Regions from separate parts of the Homo sapiens genome. Here region 1 is linked to region 2. Evidence: fine-mapped expression QTL. A gene starts in region 2. The other region holds a variant in brackets. All regions are shown on one strand. Distances are from middle to middle. Region 1 has its middle 15 kb from the start of MIR6741. Region 2 holds the start of TMEM63A (transmembrane protein 63A).

The links.
Region 1: its variant is fine-mapped to the expression of TMEM63A in whole blood (INTERVAL, PIP 0.95).

Annotation. Positions count from the first base shown.
Region 1 is chr1:225,904,431-225,909,795 of GRCh38, forward strand. No RefSeq gene overlaps it. Among named protein-coding and RNA genes, the nearest start is that of MIR6741, 15 kb to the right of the region's middle. RefSeq lists an enhancer at 2,006-2,779. The variant G/A (reference allele first, on the strand shown) is at 2,032.
Region 2 is chr1:225,879,399-225,884,763 of GRCh38, forward strand. TMEM63A (transmembrane protein 63A) reads right to left here and starts at 2,982. Exons shown (of 25, transcript NM_014698.3): 1 at 2,906-2,982; 2 at 1-12. RefSeq lists enhancers at 588-1,538, 3,741-3,790, 3,851-3,900 and silencers at 2,391-2,510, 3,071-3,230.

The DNA of each region.
Region 1 (5,365 bases), 25 kb after region 2:
CTGTCCAGAGCCCTCTGAGCCCCAGGCCCATGCCTGCAGGCCGGATTGTTTCTCAGTCAGCAATCCTTGGTGTGGACTGGGAAGTTTCTGTGCCATCCAAGGCTCAGCTCTGGCAAGGAACAGGATTCAGAGTCCACACAGAACACCAGTTAGTTCTCCCCTCTTGGGCTGACCAGCATCTGCCGGCTGTGTCTTAATAAGAAGTGGGCTCCACTCCATCTCCTTCTCTGGAAATAAGCTATTATTTATTTATTTATTTATTTATTCATTCATTTATTTAGAGATGGAGTCTTGCTCTGTTGCCCAGGCTGGAGTGCAGTGGTGCAATCTGGGCTCACTGCAACATCCGCCTCCTGTGTTCAAGGGATTCTCCTGCCTCAGCCTCCCGAGTACCTGGGACTACAAGCGCCCACCACCATGCCCAGCTAATTTTTGTATTTTTAGTAGAGACGGGGTTTCACCATGTTGGCCAAGCTGGTCTTGAACTCCTGGCCTCAAGTGATCCACCCGCCTCAGCCCTGTAAAGTGCTAGGATTACAGGCGTGAGCCACCGCGCCTGGCTAGCTTTTAAGGGTTGGTTTCCCTAGACCCAGGGTGGAGGGCTCTGGCCACCCAGGAATTCCCAGAGCATCTTCTGACAGGAAGGCACCTAGTGCATTGTTCATGGACCTTCCTGTGAGGGGGCAGCACCAGTGGCCTGTCCTCCTCAGCCCAGTGACAGCAGGTCCTTGCTGAAACCAGCCCATGCTTCCAGCTCCAGGGAGCTCCCAGCGAGTCCAGATGTTGGGAGGTTGGGGAGGAGCACAGCTTGCAGTGTCAGACCAGGGAGACCCCTGGGGTGGAGTCTGGAGACCTGGATTTGGCAGGGCTTTGTCACCGACTCATAACCAAGACATTCTGCACCTTGGGTCTGAGGAACAGAGATCCTACAATTTCAAAAACAGTAAATGTCTCCAACCTTTCAGAGCAAGAAAGCTGCACAGTGTAACTGAGAAGGGAGGTGGATCAAGCTATTTGGGGGAAGCTAGGAAGAGGGTCCTTCCTCGCCCTGAGTCAAGGCCCATCCTTCTGGTCCCAGGGCCAGACCTTGCACTTGCCTGGACCCATGGCATAGATCAGGCAGGGTGGAGGGGGCACCATTCATTGAGGCAGGGAAGGGAGGACAGGCAGGTGCGGGAGTGGGGAGTGGAAAGAAGATTGGACAGGGACAGTCTGAAGAACTGATGGGAAGTCCAGGGGCCACATCCAGGACTCTGCAGAAGGTCAGATGTGGGGTCTTTGGCAGGAGGTAAGAGAGCAGGGAGAGTAGATGGCCAGGCACAGCTACAGAGGTACAAGAGCAGAGATGATACTGAGGGGAGCACAGAGGAAAAACTCTGGGAAATAACTAGTGGCTAGAGGTTTGGGGAGAGAAGGGGAAAGCCAGAGGGGACAGAAAAGAACTGAGAGAGGCAGGAAGAGACCCTCCCCACCCCACCCCTGGACAGCCACAGACTGGCGCTAGAATCAGGGACAGGGAGGTAAGGAGGATATTTTTATGCCGTTACAGAAAAAGATGAAAGCTCAGAAATGGAAGAGAGGTCGGAAAATTTGCAAAGCCACGCATGTGGGGTGAGGACTGCTCAGAGATCAGAGAGGCTTGGTGCTGGAAGGGACCTGAGAGGAAGCTTTGGTCCAACCGCTCATTTTAAAGAGAGAGAAACTGGGGCCTGCGGAGGTCACCCCACTGTAGATGGTGAGCCAGCCTGGAGTCAAGCATCTATAGGTTAGAGGATCTAACCATATCTCCAAGGTCCAGGCCTCATGGTGCCCCTGGAGCCCCTTGTTCTCCTTTGGGAGAACAAAAATCAAATTAAAAAGCTGATTATTTTCTGGCTCAGCCTGAGAGGCTCTGCTACCTTGGTTCTGTAATTAAAAATGAAATAATACATAAAGCGAAGGAGAGAGCTGGTCCCCAGGGCTGCCGTGGGACCAGCCCTCATTTTCCCACATAAGGCTTCAGCTTCCTGCCCTGGGTCTCCAAAAGCAGAC[G/A]GTGATATGGGGGACAGGTTGAAGGCTGGCCACATCAACTTTCAGGCCAGGAAAGCCCCACCTCAGATCAAAGCCAAGGCTGCTGTGCCCCTGGGAGGGAGCATTATGTGAGCCTGTTTGTGGGTCAGCATTGACAGGGCAGGCCTGGGGAGGCCTGTGTGACTTGAGCATGAGCTGAGGGAGGCTGCAAGGGGATTGGACATGGCACAGGGCAGTGAGCTGTGTGGCCTTGGGCAGCCCATGACCCTCGCTGGACAACGGGGAATTTGACCTGCACCACGTTCGTGTCCCTCCAGGGTCTCTGGATCTAGACTAGGGCTGTTTCCGCTAATTAGGAATCATCTCGGGTGTGTGTTTTATTTCCACTTTCCATGTTTACTGTTGGTGTTTCCATAAGAAGTTTCCAAGATGTGTTAGTTTGGTGTCAAATAAAACAGAAGCATCCTATGGTGTGTGTGTGTGCGTGTGTGTGTGTGCACATGCGTGTGGGAGCATGTGTGGGTGTGTCCATGTGTAAGTGTGAGGCTGTGACTGTGGCAGTGTGTATGATCCCTTCCCGGACCACGAGCTGACTGAGGGCAGCACCGAGGCCAAGGCTGGCTCTGTGGCTGCCCCATGCCCACGGAGTAGGCTCCTGAGGGTCCTGTGACATGGTTTTGGATTTTGTTAATGAAAGATGCTGGTCCCTGGGAAGGTTTGATCCTCCTGCTTGGTACCTGGAAGCCCCCAGAATGTGTCCAACAACAGAGTTCAGCCTTTTCCTATCTTACAGCCCAAGGTCCTTTGGCCACCAGATGGGAGCCGCCACAGGCCGATTCCAGACAGGCGGCAAGGAGAAGGAAAAGAACAAAGCTGGCCCCTTCAGAGGTGGGCAAGATGAGGAGTGCTCACAGTGGTTCACAGTGGGGGTTGAACTGGGGCTCTGGGTCCTGTGGCCAGGGGTTCAGGGGTGGTCGTGACCGCCTTTGTTCCAGGTGTGGCCTGGGCCTGAAGCAGACTCTGTGTGAGGAGTGGGAGGGCTCCCTGAGGAAATGGCTCCCCTGCAGCCTGGATTTCCAGCTGCTCAGCCCAGCAGGGAAGGGGTCAGTGCGGCCTGAGCCCTGCACACCACAGCTCTGGGGAGCGGCCTGTATTCTCCATGATGAAGACACCACAGCCCTGGCTGGGGATGACCAGCGGGGCCTCCACAGCCACACTGACCTTCGTCTGAAGTAGGTCTGCCTGACGGGTGCATTTGCCATGCAGCCTCATTCTTCTCCTGAGCATCCTCCTATCCAGGGGTCTGGGTTCAGGAACGTGGCCCTCCTCACCCTGCCCCTCTCACCCAGGCCAGCTGGAGGCTCCACTCCACCCTTGTGCTGAAATCCTCCCCCTGCTTCCCCAGGCCCTCTGTCTCCTTCTTCTCCCTCATCCCTTGACTCTTCATGATCTCCAGGCTGCTTGACATGGGCTGAATTGTGGACCCCCAAAATTCATATGCTTAAACTCTAACCCTCAGTACCTCTGAATGTGTCTATTTGGACATAGGGCCTTTAAAGAGAAAATTAAGTTAGATGAGGTCACTAGGATGGACTCTAATCCAGTATGACTGGTGTCCCTGGTCTTGAACTTCTAGCCTCCAGAACTGTGAGAAAATAAATTTCTTTTTCTTTTATTTTTTGTAGAGATGGGGTCTTGCTGTATTGCCCTGGCTGGTCTCAAACTCCTGTCCTCAAACAATCCTCCCACCTTGGCCTCCCTCCCAAAGCACTGGGATTACAGGCATAAGCCACCATACCTGGCTTTCTTTGGTAGAGACAGGGGTCTCACCATGTTGCCCAGGCTTGTCTAGAACTCCTGGCCTCAAACAATTCTCCTACCTCAGCCTCCTGAGTAGCTGGGATTATAGGCATGAGCCACCACCGTGCCAAGGTTGACAAACACATTTCTGTTGCTTAAGCGACCCAGGCCTGGTCATTACAGTTTTGCTGTAGCAGCCCAGGAATGTGATGTGCCACTCTGCCTACACTGATGTGGACTCAGCTCCAAGTCCACAGTCACAGTGCCAGGTTGCAAACCCACATCTGTGCCTCCAGATTCTTCTGAGGCCCTGCCTCTTTCCCTACGGTCTGAAAATGGGGGGCCCACCTCCCCTTAAAGAGGAACTCCCGATGGCAATGGGGTTCAGCGCAGGCTCCAGCCATGCTGCTCATCTCATCTCGGCCCTGGGCAACCCCAATGAGCCTCATTTTTCTCATTTGTGAAAACGGGCGTCAGATAGAAACACGCACTGGATAGGGTTGTTTGTGGGGACTGGGGAAGGTTGGGGAAGTCCAGCTCCAGCTTTGACCTGTATCTGGCACTCCATGAACGCAGCTTTTATTTTTATTATTCCTCTCAAACCTATCCCCTTCCAGGATTTTCCAGGTCAGTTAATGGTGTCACCAAGCAGAAGCCTTGGCCTGGCTTCCACACCTGCTTCTCTCTCACCTGCCCTCATCTCATGGCTCAACAATCCTCATTAAATACCTGCTAAACAATAGCCATTGTGCTCTGCACTGAGCAAACAACAGGAACCCTGTAGACGGTGGAGGTTTTAGCTTATCTGTGCATTAAACAAATTGAATTTTAAACAAGCAATTGATATTAGGGGGATACACTGGGGGAAGCCAAGGCTCTTTAAGCCTTGTGGATTACCCTCTTCAACTGGCTTCCCTCATCTTTTATACCCAAATGGCTGCAAGACTCAAGGCACTGTTTTCCAACATTTCTGGAGTTTTCTTTCTTAAGCAAAAATTAGGGCTGATCCCTCCCTACTTAAAAACCTCTTAGGCTGGGCACGGTGGCTTATGCCTGTAATCCCACCACTTTGGGAAGCCGAGGCAGGCGGATCATCTGAGGTCAGGAGTTCGAGACCAGCCTGGCTAACATGGTGAAACCCCATTTCTACTAAAAATACAAAAATTAGCCAGGCGTGGTAGCACACACCTGTGGTCCCAGCTACTCAGGAGGCTGAGGCAGGAGAATCGCTTGAACCCAGGAAGCAGAGGTTGCAGTGAGCTGAGATCACACCACTACACTCCAGCCTGGGCAACAGAGCAAGACTTTCTCAAACAAAACAAAACAAAACAAAACAAAACAAAACAAAACAAAACAAATTAACCTCTTGCTGCCTCAGCTGCCTTCCACTGTGCCAAGTCCAGCATCTTCATTGTTCAGACTCACCTGTTGTCCAGTCACACACACACCCAGCACACACTCACTCTTCACTCCATCATATGAAGGACTTTACCAACACTGGGCACTGGTTCCCGCCACCCTACCTGGGCACAAGCAGTGCCCATCACCCAGGGTG
Region 2 (5,365 bases):
CTGTAGACTTTCCTGAAGGATCACAGACACCAAGCATCACATGGGAGCCACCCTTTTCCAGTGTAGGGGTCTGGATGGAAACCCTCCAGCACACACCTGTGTATGCATGCTGCCCATATGGACCTTTAGGTTCTGCCCAGTGGGCTCCCTCCTGCCTTGATCTCTCCCCAAACTCCCAGAACTGGTTCTCCATCCATCAGTGCTCCTCTGTGCGACCCTACTCCTCCTTCCTCGGCCAGCACCACCTGTGGCCCCAGCCTCTCTCCTCTTTGCCAATGGCTCAGGGACCTGCTGGGTCTAGGGGAGCAGCCCTCTCCCACAGAAACCCTGGAGGTTGTGGGCTCACGGTAGGGCCCCAAGCAAAGGACTTCACCTGGGCCCCAAGGGCCAATGCTACTGGGGAGGCTCCCCAGGGTTCCCCAAGAGCTAGAATCAGGAAAAGGGAACACAGCAGCATGAACAAGGAAGGCTTGAAATGTGAAGTGGAAAGAAAAAACATCCCCATAAAATGCTCACAGAGAGAGCATTGTCCCTGGAAAGGGGAGGGTGCTGTGGTGGTGCTGGGAGTGGCATACCCTCGCCAGTGCTGCAGAGGAGAGAGGCCTCTGCGGAGGGAAACACCTGCGGCTCCTCTTCCCCCTCCCTCCAGCCCCAGTCATGCCTCTAAGTTACTTGTCTCTTGCCAAATAGGCTTCCCAGGGTGGTTTGACAAAGTTTGATATGAACTCAGGGAGGTGGCTAGCAAATACTATCAGCCTGAGACGGAGGTAAGGTCAGGTGGCCAGTCCTGTCTGCCCTCTCCGATGAGCACCCAGGTTAGGGTAGAGCTCTGGGGACCCACAATCTCTCTCAGACCTTTCAGCTCAGTCCCAGCCTGTCCCTGCCCATTAGACACATAAAGTCCAGATCCCCCTGAAACAGCTCCGTCCCTCTGGCTCTCCATGGGACAGCTCCTCTGCATTTTCACAAACAGGCACGCTCTGAGCAGGCAGCTGGGAACACAGACACCATGGGACAGTGCTGCCAGGCTGAGGAGAAGGCAGGGGGAGGGGAGCACCCAGCTGGCAGCTGTATAGAGGAGGCCAAACCAGCAGCTAGGCACTGTGGTTGAAGTGGCACTGCCTGGCTGAGAACCCCTGGCAATATTCAGTCATCCTAGATGTATGTGAATGCCTAGCACTTACCTGTGCCTTCCAGAAATTCTCCATTCATCCCCTTATTCCTACTCAATATGCCGAGGGTAGGAAAGCCAAGAATTACTGCTGAGGCCCAAGAGCCAGAGTGGGCAGCAGGTGACTTCACGCTCCCAACCCAAAGTTCAACCCATGTGCAGGCAAGCGTCTGATTGTGGCCAGTGGGAGAGGGCTAAATCCAACAGCTGGTCTAAATTTGCCAAAGTAAACTACCTATGCTAATCCACTGCCAGTCTCCATTGGCAGCAAGGACTGGCCTGGTGGTCAACTTGACAAGCTCTAGAAATACCAGCAGAATGTTGCAGGAAGTATATGGATATTGTTCGTTCTTGCAAGAAGGCCCGTACAAATTCAGGGTAATTTTATCATCACCAAATCTTTCAATCCTGTGATGACAATAGCGAAACTACAAGCAGCTCCAGGCCTTCTGCCTCAGGAGCTAACTCTGGTCTTTCAGATGCAGAATAAGGTTGCAAAGTAAAGTACAAACTTCTCCTTATGGCAACACCAAACAGGACCCAGTAACCTGGACAACTGTTTACCTCCTACCCTGGAGCACAAAGGAAATGACACAGCCCCTGGCTGAAACCAGAGGCAGTGTGGCTCAGGGATTATGTGAGCAGGCTCTGGAGTTAGGGTCTCAGCACCACGCAGTTCAGACAAGCAGCCTAACCACTCTGTGCCTTGGCTTCCTTCGCCAGGAAATGCGAGTGATGACTTTCTCTCACGGAGCTGTTGGGAGGCACAGATCCCAAACAACACCTGTAAAGCACTTAGCCCAGGACCCGGCCCTAGCAAGCAATTAGAAGCTGTCTGCCTTTATTTTAAGTCGCCCCTCCAGCTAATGGGAAACACAAGGGCAGGATCCCACCTGACGTCTTCTCTGTTAGAGCCCAACGAACAGCTAGGAGAGACCTTTGCCCCCACACTAAACAAAGGAGAGGGGCGTGTGAAGGGAAAAGGAGCCTCGGCTTCCGTTCATATCCCCCTTGAAGGCACAGCAGACTTGAGGATGACCTGAGAGGTGTCAAGGGAGGGTCAGTGGGTCCGCCACGCTGTCCACCCCTGCCCTTGAAGAGGACACCACCTGCCTGGGGCTGAATGACCAAGGCCCCTCCAGGGCCTCAGGTAGCTAGTCTTATCAGGTGCTGGAACCTTTGCGGATTTGGTTTCTTAGCAGAGCTCGCCTCACCCTTTCCGCCCCCGCCCTTCCCCCCAGTCCCCGAGTCCCCAGCCTCCCTCCTCAGGACTCCGCCAAGGCTGCAGGAAGTGGTCACCCAGGAACAGCCCGAGGGGTGGCCTCTGCCTTCCTGGCGTCAGGAGAGTCGGACGCTTGGCCCTTTCCCAGCCCGGCCTCGTATAGGGTCCGAGGAGCCCATAGCTGCACTCCTAGTTAGGTGGGAGGTCGGACTCCGCCGACAAATCCCAAAGAGAGGGGTGGGGAAGAAGGAGATACCAGCCCTGAAAGCGAAAAGCCGGAGAGGAAAGTCCTGAAAAGCCGCCAGGAATTCCCAAGGAGCGCAGGGCTGGAATGGAGGCGCTGCCCGGACCCTCTCCTCCCACCCAATCCCGCGTCGTCACCCCCTGCTTGGGGTCGGGGGCTCTGGGGTCTGCGTAGGCTGGGAGCCGTTCCGGAACCGGACACCTGGCGCGCACGTCCCGGGAAAGGCGGAGGGTGCATTGCCCCTCCTCACGCCCCCTGTCCCCTGTACCTGCGGCGGCGGCGTGTCTGGCGGGACCCAGCAGCGCGGGGCGTGTTCCGACCACTTAAAAGTTACAAAGTGAAACTCCGGCGCCTCCTGCACATGCGCAGAGCTGCGGCCACCCCTTTCCCAATTTGGAGTCTTGGCCCGCGGCGGCGCAAGCCTGTACGCAGCTGACTGCGCCTCCCGCGGTGGCCCTCGGCGGTCCTCTGCCCCGGCCTGGCCTCCTGGTCGCCGCTCAGCCCCGCAGCTCCTCCCGGAGGTCTGCAAGCCCCGGACCGGCCAGCTCACGTCCAGGCTCCAAGAAGGGATCCGCCGGGGCGCACCCTCTTCCGTCCCCCGGCACGAGCCCAGTCTCTGGACGCCTCCGGGAGAACTGGGCCAAGCACAGGGTGGTCGCGGCGCAGGGAGAGCATCTGCAAACGTTGGTCCCTGTAGTGCTTTGAATTTCCCCGAAGAGCTCTTAGACCCGCCCCGGGAGAGTGGGGTTGCGGGGGTGGTAGCATGGGGAGCTCAGCAGGATTCAGCCCGCACCTCGGCTCCGGGTAGTCGGGAACCGCGCGGAGCGCCCTGCAAGAGGCCACGGCTCCCCCGCCGCTGTAGAAGGCCGGACCGTGAAAGCCCGGAGGGTCTCCGTTCGGGCAAAAATGTGGGGGCGGGTCGCAGCATTTCCAACGCCCCCTGGGGCTAGTCCATTACTGCTCGAGCCAGGGCCGCCAAGGGCACCTACTCCAGCCCAGGTCCGAGAGCGCGGCATGCCTCCCGGCCGGGAGCCAAATGTTTCCAGGGAGCCGGTGGCCTCCACAACCGGACCGCAAGCTCGCGAGGGCAGGGCCGGCCCGCCGCGCCAGGGACTGCTGGGCGCTGCGCGGGAAGCGAGGCTGGGTTCGGGGAGGACCGCGCGCCCTGGGAATCAAGGAGCAAACCAACCCGTCCGCAGGCCCCTGTTTCCCTATCTGTGAAATGAGTGGTTGGACCAAAGCTTCCTCTCAGGTCCCTTCCAGCACCCCTCTCTGAGCTCTGAGCAGTCCTCACCCCACATGCATGCCTTTGCAGGTTCTCCGACCTCCCTTCCATTTCTGAGCTTTCATCTTTTTCTGTAACGGCATAAAAATATCCTCCTTATGGCCGGGCGCGGTGGCTCATGCCTGTAATACCAGCACTTTGGGAGGCCGAGGTGGGCGGATCACCTTAGGTCTGGAGTTCGAGACCAGCCTGACCCGCATGGAGAAACCCCGTCTCTACTAAAAATACAAAATTAGCCGGGTGTGGTGGCACATGCCTGTAATCCCAGCTACTAGGGAGTCTGAGGCAGGAGAATCGCTTGAACCTGGGAGGCGGAGGTTGCGGTGAGCTGAGATTTCACCATTGAACTCCAGCCTGGGCAACAAGAGCGAAACTCTGTCTCAAAAAAAAAAAAAAAAAAAAAAAAATTCCTCCTTACCTCCCTGTCCCTGATTCTAGCGCCAGTCTGTGGCTGTCCAGGAGTGGGGTGGGGAGGGTCTCTTCCTGCCTCTCTCAGTTCTTTTCTGTCCCATCTGTCTTTCCCCTTCTCTCCCCAAAGCTCTAGCCACTAGTTATTTTCCAGGGTTTTTCCTCTATGCCCCCCGCCAGTATCATCTCTGCCCTTGTCCCTCCATAGCTGCGCCTGGCCATCCCCCCTCCCTGCTCTCTTACCTCCACATCTGACGGTCTGCAGAGTCCTGGGTGTGGCCCCTGGACTCCCCGTTGGCTCCTTAGACTGTCCCTGTCCAATCTTTCTTCCACTCCCCACTCCCGCACCTGCCTGTCCTCCTTCCTTCCTCAATGAATGGTGCCCCCACCTGTCTGGTCTGTGCCATGGGTCCAGGCAAGTGCAAGGTTCCGGTCTTGGTAATTAGAATGCTGGAGCCACTGACAAAGATTTCAGAGAGAGAAAGGATTTCTAAATTTGTTCTTGAGTAGGTTAAGGTTATTTCAAAATCAAGAGAAGGCCTTGATGGATCGATATGTGAGTTGAGATAGCCACAGCCTTTGTTATGTCAGTTGTGTGAAGTGCTTGTAAAATCACTATTTTATTTTTTAATTTTTAATTAATTATTTACTTATTGAGACACAGTCTCACTCTGTCGCCCAGGCTGTAGTACAGTGGTGTGATCTCAGCTCACTGCAACCTCCACCTCCTGGCTTCAAGCGATTCTCCTGCCTCAGCCTCCCAAGTAGCTGGGATTATAGGCATGTGCCACCACACCCGGCTAATTTTGTACTTTTAGTAGAGACGGGGTTTCTCTATGTTGGTCAGGCTGGTCTCAAACTCCCAACCTCAGGTGATCCTCAGGATTATAGACGTGAGCCACCGCGCCCAGCTGCACAGCTCTTACAGCTATAAATTCCAGATCCTCTGAAGCTTTATTTTCTTCTCTAAGTATAGATGATAATTTTGATCACAGATTTTATTTTGATGCAAGTAGGATTGGAATAAAGCCCAGT